Linked DNA regions of Homo sapiens. The protein of the gene in region 1 purifies or fractionates together with the protein of each later gene. This does not show direct contact. Each region holds a gene or a part of one and is shown on either strand. Other genes may lie near its edges.

Evidence for each region.
Region 2: the proteins of DRG1 (region 1) and OSCP1 purify together in Homo sapiens (affinity purification with mass spectrometry; 2 studies listed by BioGRID and IntAct, with this or other methods). This does not show direct contact.

Annotation. Positions count from the first base shown.
Region 1 is NC_000022.11:31,419,767-31,423,681, reverse strand, and holds part of DRG1 (developmentally-regulated GTP-binding protein 1), read right to left. Parts: intron 3,427-3,915; coding exon 3,257-3,426; intron 403-3,256; coding exon 272-402; intron 1-271. UniProt on the Homo sapiens protein: Catalyzes the conversion of GTP to GDP through hydrolysis of the gamma-phosphate bond in GTP. Appears to have an intrinsic GTPase activity that is stimulated by ZC3H15/DFRP1 binding likely by increasing the affinity for the potassium ions.
Region 2 is NC_000001.11:36,443,607-36,447,521, forward strand, and holds part of OSCP1 (protein OSCP1), read right to left. Parts: intron 1,202-3,915; exon of another isoform or gene 995-1,201; intron 428-994; coding exon of another isoform or gene 398-427; intron 1-397. UniProt on the Homo sapiens protein: May be involved in drug clearance in the placenta.

The DNA.
Region 1 (3,915 bases):
GGTGGTGCGCACCTGTAATCCTAGCTACTCGGGAGGCTGAGGCAGAAGAATCTCTTGAACCTGGGAGGTGGAGCTTGCAGTGAGCTGAGATCACGCCACTGCACTCTAGCCTGGGCAACAGAGTGAGACTCCATCTCAAAAAAAAAAAAAAAAAAAAAGACAGTAGGACAACTGGAATTAAGATAAACTTCTGCCAGATTCAAGATCCAATACTGTTTCCATCACAAGGCTTCCAATTCAGTCAGGCACAGACTGCACACTCAGTCAGTACCTGTTTCCTTCCACCACATCAATGAGGTCATCAGCTGTAGCATCACTACGTAGAGTCACATCGGCATTATGAATCTTGTATTCAGCCAGAATGCTCTTCACAGTTTCAGCATCCAGCTCACTCTGGGGGCACTGAAAGGGAATAGCAGATGACTAGTCAGCACAAAATTTAAAAAAAATACTTGTCAAGTGTACCAATATCCATGTACCTGGAAAATTCTAGCTAAGATGCAAACTCATTACTAAATACATCCGGGATGAGTGTCACTGACTTTTAGTAGGAAATAAATGTCCAAACTCCAAGGAAGGTGTTACACGCTGAACTGTGTTCCTCCTTCCCCCACCAAATAATTCACATGAAGTCTTAACCTCAGTATCTCAGAATGTGATGTATTTGGAGATAGGGTCTTTAAAGCGGTAATCAAATTAGAATAAGGTCATTAGGGTGGGGCCATAATCCAATACTGGTGGTCCTAATAAGAAAAGGAGATTAGGACACAGACACACAGAGCAAACACCATATGAAGTCCCATCTGTAAGCCAAGGACAGAAGCCTCAGAAGAAATCAACCCTGCCATCAACTTCATCTCAGACTTCTAGCCTCTAGAATTATGAAAAATAAATTTCTGTTATTTAAGCCACCCATCTGTGGTACCGTATTATGGCAGCACTGAAACTAACACAGAAATAATCTTAAATGTTCAAATTTGAATATTAAGACGGGATAATGGGAAAGATGTTTTGGGCAGGACAGCTGAAACCTATGCCAGTCAAATCATCTGGGCTCTGAAGTGTTAAATTTAGTAGGAAACTCTCAGTCCTCAATTCTGACAGAGAAGCAGCATTTGACAGAATTGGTCACTCCTATGTGAAACACTTTACTTGGCTTCCAGTATTTCAAACTCTTTCAGTTTTCCTTCTCTCTCTTGGTCTAAGAAGTCTTATTTCTCTGAGTCTCTTTTCTTTCTTTTTTTTCTTTTGAGACGGAGTTTTGCTCTTGTTGCCCAGGCTGGAGTGCAGTGGCGCGATCTCAGCTCACTGCAACCTCCGCCTCCTGGGTTCAAGCAATTCTCCTGCCTCAGCCTCCGAAGTACCAGGATCACAGGCACGTGCCACCACGCCTGGCTAATTTTTGTATTTTTAGTACAGACAGGGTTTTGCCATGTTGGTCAGGCTGGCCTCCAACTCCTGACCTCATGTAATCTGCCCACTTCGGCCTCCCAAAGTGTTGGGATTACAGGCGTAAGCCACCGTGCCTGGCCGATTCTCTTTTCTTTTCTTTCTTTCTTTCTTTTTTTTTTTGAGACGGAGTCCCGCTCTGTCACCAGGCTGGAGTGCAGTGGCGTCATCTCGGCTCACTGCAACCTCCACCTCTTGGGTTCGATTCTCCTGCCTCAGCCTCCCGAGTAGCTGAGATTACAAGTGCGTGCCACCATGCCCGGCTAATTTTTGTGTTTTTAGTAGATACAGGGTTTCACCATGTTGGCCAGGATGGTCTCCATCTCTTGACCTTGTGATCCGCCCACCTCGGACTCCCAAAGTACTGGGATTACAGGTGTGAGCCACTGCACCCAGCTCTCTTTTCTTTTCTATCTATACTCACATCCTTGGTGATCTCAGTTAGGCCCATGACATTAAAGTTGATAATCACCAAATTTATATATCCAGCCTAGATAATTCCTCATGCCTTCTTTATTATTTTTATAGAGATGGGGTCTCACTTTGTTGCCCAAGCTGGTCTTGAACTCCTGGGCTCAAGTGATCCTCCTGCCTCAACCTCCCAAAGTGCTGGGATTATAGATGTACAGGCATGAGCCACCATGCCCAGCCTACCCCACATGCCCTCTTGACTGAAATACCTGGATGTCTCACTGGCATCTAAAATTTAACATCCTGATCTTCTCCTTCCCTCCAAATCTATTCTACCAAAAGTCCTACCATTTTAGTAATAAGAGTTCATTTTTTTTTTAGCTCAGGAAATAAAAAACATGGCTGGGTATGGTGGCTCATACCTGTAATCCCAACACTTTGGGAGACCGAAGCAGGAGACAGCTTGAGGCCAAAAGTTCAAGACCAGCCTGGGCAACATGGCAAATCTCCGTTTCTACCAAAAAAAAAAAAAAAAAAAAAAATTAGCCAAGCCTGGAGGCATGTGACTTAGCCCTAGCTACTTAGAAGGCTGAGGCAGGAGGGTCACTTGAGCCCAAGAGTTTTGAGCTAACAGTGAACTATGATTGTGCCACTGTACTCCAGCCTAAGCAACAGAATGAAACCGACCAGCCTGGCCAACATGGTGAAACCCCGTCTCTACTAAAAATACAAAAGTTAGCTGGGTGCGATGGCAGGCACCTGTAATCCCAGCTACTCAGGAGGTTGAGGCATGAAGCAAATGCTCTTCTTCAAGATATCCACTTGGTTCACACCTTCATGTCACCTCAGTAAAGACTTCCCTGACCAACGTTCTTAAAACTGCAACCCTCACACCAACACTCTTATCTCCTTTCCCTACTTTGTGTTCTTATATTTATCATTGACGAATACATTATATTTTACTCATTAACATTGTTTTCTATTCTATCCAATTAGAATATAAAAGCAGGGGGTTTCACTATTCCCTCTTCCATTCCTGCCCAGAGCCTAAAATAATGCTTGGCCCGTGGTAGGCACTCTATAAATTTGTGTTAAATGAATGAAAACAGAAGATATTGGCGGCCATCTACTTTATGCAAGCATAATATTGGTCCACACGCCCATATCATTCCCAATAGATAATCCAAAAGAGGAAATAAGTAGCAAAGGTAAGTCTGAGACTGGCTCCTATCCTAATCTTGAAGTTTTTCTTGTCAGTCATTATAAAGTCATTGTGTTATCTCAATTAGTGCAGGGAAAAGCCAGGAAATTTTCCAATGTCAGGGTCCATGCACCCCAATCCACTCCCCATTCCAATTCCTGCAGCAGCCTGCCCCATGTCATATTCCCCACTTACAGTGGCTGTGAGATTAATGCCTCCCTTGTCCTTCTTCTTAAAGCCAATGTTGGGGGGTTTGCTGTTCAAGCGAATGCCAAAGCCTTCCAGCTCATTTTCAATTATCTTCTTATGTCCCAAAGGTTTCAGGACATCCAGAACAATCAAGATCAAGTTACAGGTTCGGGCCACTGAAGAGTAAGAAAAAAACATACGCAAGAAAGTTCAATAAAGCCTTAACTAACCCAAATACTCAAGTAGAGGTGTTTTTTCCCCCTACATTTAAGTGTCAAAGGATTTTTCTGTAATACATACATGCATACGTGAAGTTCTTATAGCTACAGAAGATTTATACCAGAAGTCAATTTGCTTTGTATGCCATGAAATCAGCACCTATTTGCCCAAGAGTTGACACATTTTCTGTTGCCCAGGCTGGAGTGCAGTGGCACAATCTTGGCTTACTGCAACCTCTGCCTCCCGGGTTCAAGCGATTCTCCTCCCTCAGCCACCCCAGTAGCTGGGACTACAGGCACATGCCACCATGCCTGGCTAATTGTATTTTAGTAGAGACGAGGTTTCCTCACCATGTTGCCTGGGCTGGTCTCGAACTCCTGAGCTCAGGCAATCCGCCCACCTCAGCCTCCCAAAGTGCTAGGATTACAGGCATGAGCCACTGCGCC
Region 2 (3,915 bases), on another chromosome or scaffold:
CAGGGAGGGTCACTCATGTTGAAGCACAATTCTTTGGTTACATGACAAAACAAAGTTGTTTTAAGGACTACCAAATAGGATGACATACCCCAAAGTATGGCTATTGCCCCAGCTGTCCCAGCAAAGCTTGGAACTGAGAAAAGGAGACATATCCCTCAAGTACAGTGTGGCTTTTTGGTCAGAGTTTGCTTAGTTTTCATCTTAACATGCTGTATTTCTTCCTCTTAAGTAAAAGATTCAAATGTATAACCAATATCTCAGCTAAAGACAAACTCATGCCTATTTTCTTACTTTGACTTTGAAATGTTTCAAGCGGTCCCATTTTAAGCCCTGCTGATAAAGGCCTGAGTGAACCTGTGGATGCACACTGAACACATGCAGCCCGGAGATAGCATACCTCGTTTTCTGTCCACCTCTGTCCATTCATCTACATGAAGCATACAAAAAGAAAACACCAGTTCATGAAGCAAGAACATTATTTTCAAGGAGGCTTTAAACATACCAATTCCAATGATCTTATCTATGAAACTTTACTTTTCACGTTGGCATTTAATGTCTAATGTGAGCACACTGCCTTCTATTTGAAACCTTTAAAAGGATGATGGATAAACAACATATTTCAAAAAAGCTCAAGAAAGGCTATGTCTTACAGAGACTGGCCTAAGAAGAGAGTAAACTGAGGAGGATTAGCTATCCTGTGGTTCATCTTGAAAGGCCCAAGAAGCCCCGCTCTCTAATGCTACAAGAATACATATCATTCAGTAGTAGGCTTTTAAAGACGCTAGCCTCCATGAGGAAGAATAATTCCAAGAACAGGCAGAGAAAAGAGTTTCTTTGTATACAATCTGAGTTTTCTTTTCTTTTCTTTTTTTTTTATTAATGTAAGATTTCCCTTTCTAGAGGACAGATGGAACTGCTCAAATTAGAAAACTTGAAATGTGAATTAAAAGGAAAATGTCAGCATTTGTTTCTGTTTTACTTTTTATATATATAGATGCATGATTTCCATGTAAAAAGAAGCGAATAATGATGGGACCACTATGAAGAAAGCTTCTGAGGACAAAGGCAGCTGGGGAGATCCCAAGAGGAGACCAAATAAGGAAAAATGCAGTTGGCTAGAGAAATCGGTGAGAATCAAGACTCTATGGGTTGAAACCTGGCTCTACTTACTGGCTATATAAACTTCAAGCAACTTGTTTAACCTCAGTTTCCTTCGTAAAATAGGGATCATAATAGCACCTATCTTACAGGCCTATTGTGGGGATAAAGCATAACACACATCAAATACTTAGCTGGCTTCCCTTTGAGTTCTGTTTCCTCTACTGAGGGACATTAGACACCACCCATAAAGGATGGAAGATGACTTTTTTCCTTTCCTTAATTTTTGATGGAGATTTCAATCTAGAAGAACCACCCCTAGATAAAAAAGTTCTATACACATCTGTATTTCAAAAACATTTTGGCGAGGCACAGTGGCTCATGCCTGTAATCCCAGAACTTTGGGAGGCCAAGATGGGCGGATCACCTGAGGTCAGGAGTTCGAGACCAGCCTGGCCAACATGGTGAAACCTCATCTCTACAAAAAATACAAAAATTAGCTGGGTGTGGTGGTGCACACCTATAGTCTCAGCTACTTGGGAGGCTGAAGCAGGAGGATTGCTTGAACCCAGGAGGTGAAGGTTGCAGTGAGTGGAGACTACGCCACTGGGCGACAGAGCAACACTCCATCTCAAAAAACAAAAACAAACAAACAAAAACCCCAAAACCATTTTGTAATTAATAGTTTCTTTTGGAAACATTTGCCACTAGATTGTGGTATTAGGGGTGATTTCTGAAGTTATAATCAAAGTATACACATGGCTTCAATACATAATACCAAAAGCTCCCAAGAGAGCAGTCTGAAAGCATGGCCAGTGCCATGTCCTAACCGGCTGCAAAGGGTTTCCATTGCAAGATCACACTCCTCTGGGAAAATTCACCATCTTCCCCCATCAAGAGTCATGGGCTTTTGAAAAGAAAATATTGGGAAAGCAGCACCAAAAGTTTGGCAGATACTGTTTTCTTTGGCACAATGTCCACATCTATCTTTCTGTGGCATTTATTTATTTATTTATTTATTTATTTTTGAGACAGGGTCTTACTGTGTTGCCCAGGCTGGAGTGCAATGGTGCGATCTCGGCTCACTGCAACCTCCACTTCCCAGGTTCAAGCGATTCTCCCGCCTCAGCCTCCCGAGTAGCTGGGATTACAGGCACCTGCCATCATGCCGGCTAATTTTTTATTTTTAGTAGAGACGGGGTTTCTCCATGTTGGCCAGGCTGGTCTTGAACTCCTGACCTCAGGTGATCTGCCCACCTTGGCCTCCCAAAGTGCTGGGATTACAGGTGTGAGCCATCACACCCGGCCTGGCATTTATTTTTTATTTGTTTATTCTGAGAGGGAGACTTGCTTTGTCGCCCAGGCTAGAGTGCAGTGGCGTGATCTCAGCTCACTGCAACCTCTGCCTCCCGGGTTCAAGCGATTCTCCTGCCTCAGCCTCCTGAGTCGCTGGGATTACAGGCGCCTGCCACCACAACAGGGTAATTTTTGTATTTTTTGTAGAGATGGGTTTTCACCATGTTGGCCAGGCTGGTCTCGAACTCCTGACCTCAGGTGATCCACCCACCTCGGCGTCCCAAAATGCTGGGAATATAGGCGTGAGCCACTGCGCCCGGCCCCTGCAGCATTTATTTAACTGGTGGTATAGTGTGATAGACTTGTGGGAATTCAAGGAGGTGGAGTTTTAATCCCCTTGCAGGTGTGTTTGGGGAATAGTGGTGCTGCAAGGGGGTCATCTCTGAAGGACAGTGACTCTCGCTGATAAAATGGAACTGGCAGATGCTCCCGAAGGCAGGCAGGCTGAACGCCAGCAGGGGTCTCTGTAGTGCTGTGTGCTCCCCTACTCCTTTCCTCCTGAGAATACAGGGAAGAGAAACACCCTCTTTTTCTATTATTTCTCCAGATGACTTATTTGTGACAACTCCACTTTAGTTCTGTTTTGAGTGGGGGCAGGCCCAAGGCTATTCAGAGCTAGTCGTTAAACTGGAACTAGAAAAATAAAACCAGAGTCTCACTGCCCTTTGGTTGCTTGTGCTACACTGTGATTGGCATGTCTTGGAAAAATCACTTTGTGGCCACATGCCTCAGTTTCCTCTCCTGTAAAATGAGGAATGTAAGCAAAAGATAATAAGGTCTTATTTATAAATATTTTTAAGAGGCAAAGGTAGCTTTTATTATTCTCGCCATTGCTTTAAACAGGAGACAACATTCAATATGCAACACTCGATAGTTGCCTCATAGAGAGAGCACTTCCTTTCTGTTGAATGCTAAACTAGAGGCTGCGTTGTGGGGGAAGCTGCAACATCTGCCTTGGCCTTGTGGGAACAGGGATGGCCTCCAGGAGACCAATTAGTCGTATAAGATAATGAAAACATCTAGAAGAAATATGATTTCCACTCAAAGCTTCGAAGAGGACTAGTTTACCAAGTCTAGTGTTTTATAGGCTCCTGTGTACAGGGATCTGTTACAGGGGCTCTCGCTCCTGTGGCCACAACAACTTTAAATGGTGGAATAGGTGGAAGACATGAGTATTTCTCAGCCCGTTGAATCCTATGCTCTCTACCCTGTTTTCTCACTCTATCTTCTACAGATCTCCAACAGCCAACTATTTTGTCATTTATTTGATAAAATCAGTGGGTATATTGGATATATATTTTTCAGACTCCTCCCTCTCCTCCTGACCTACCAACCCCCACTAAGATTCTGATATAGTCCCCAAGGTATGGCAGCAGAGTATAGTGGTTATAGTAAGGGGACTAAGTGGTTATAGTAAGGGGACATTGGCTGAGTATGAGGACATTGGTTATATGAGGGGAC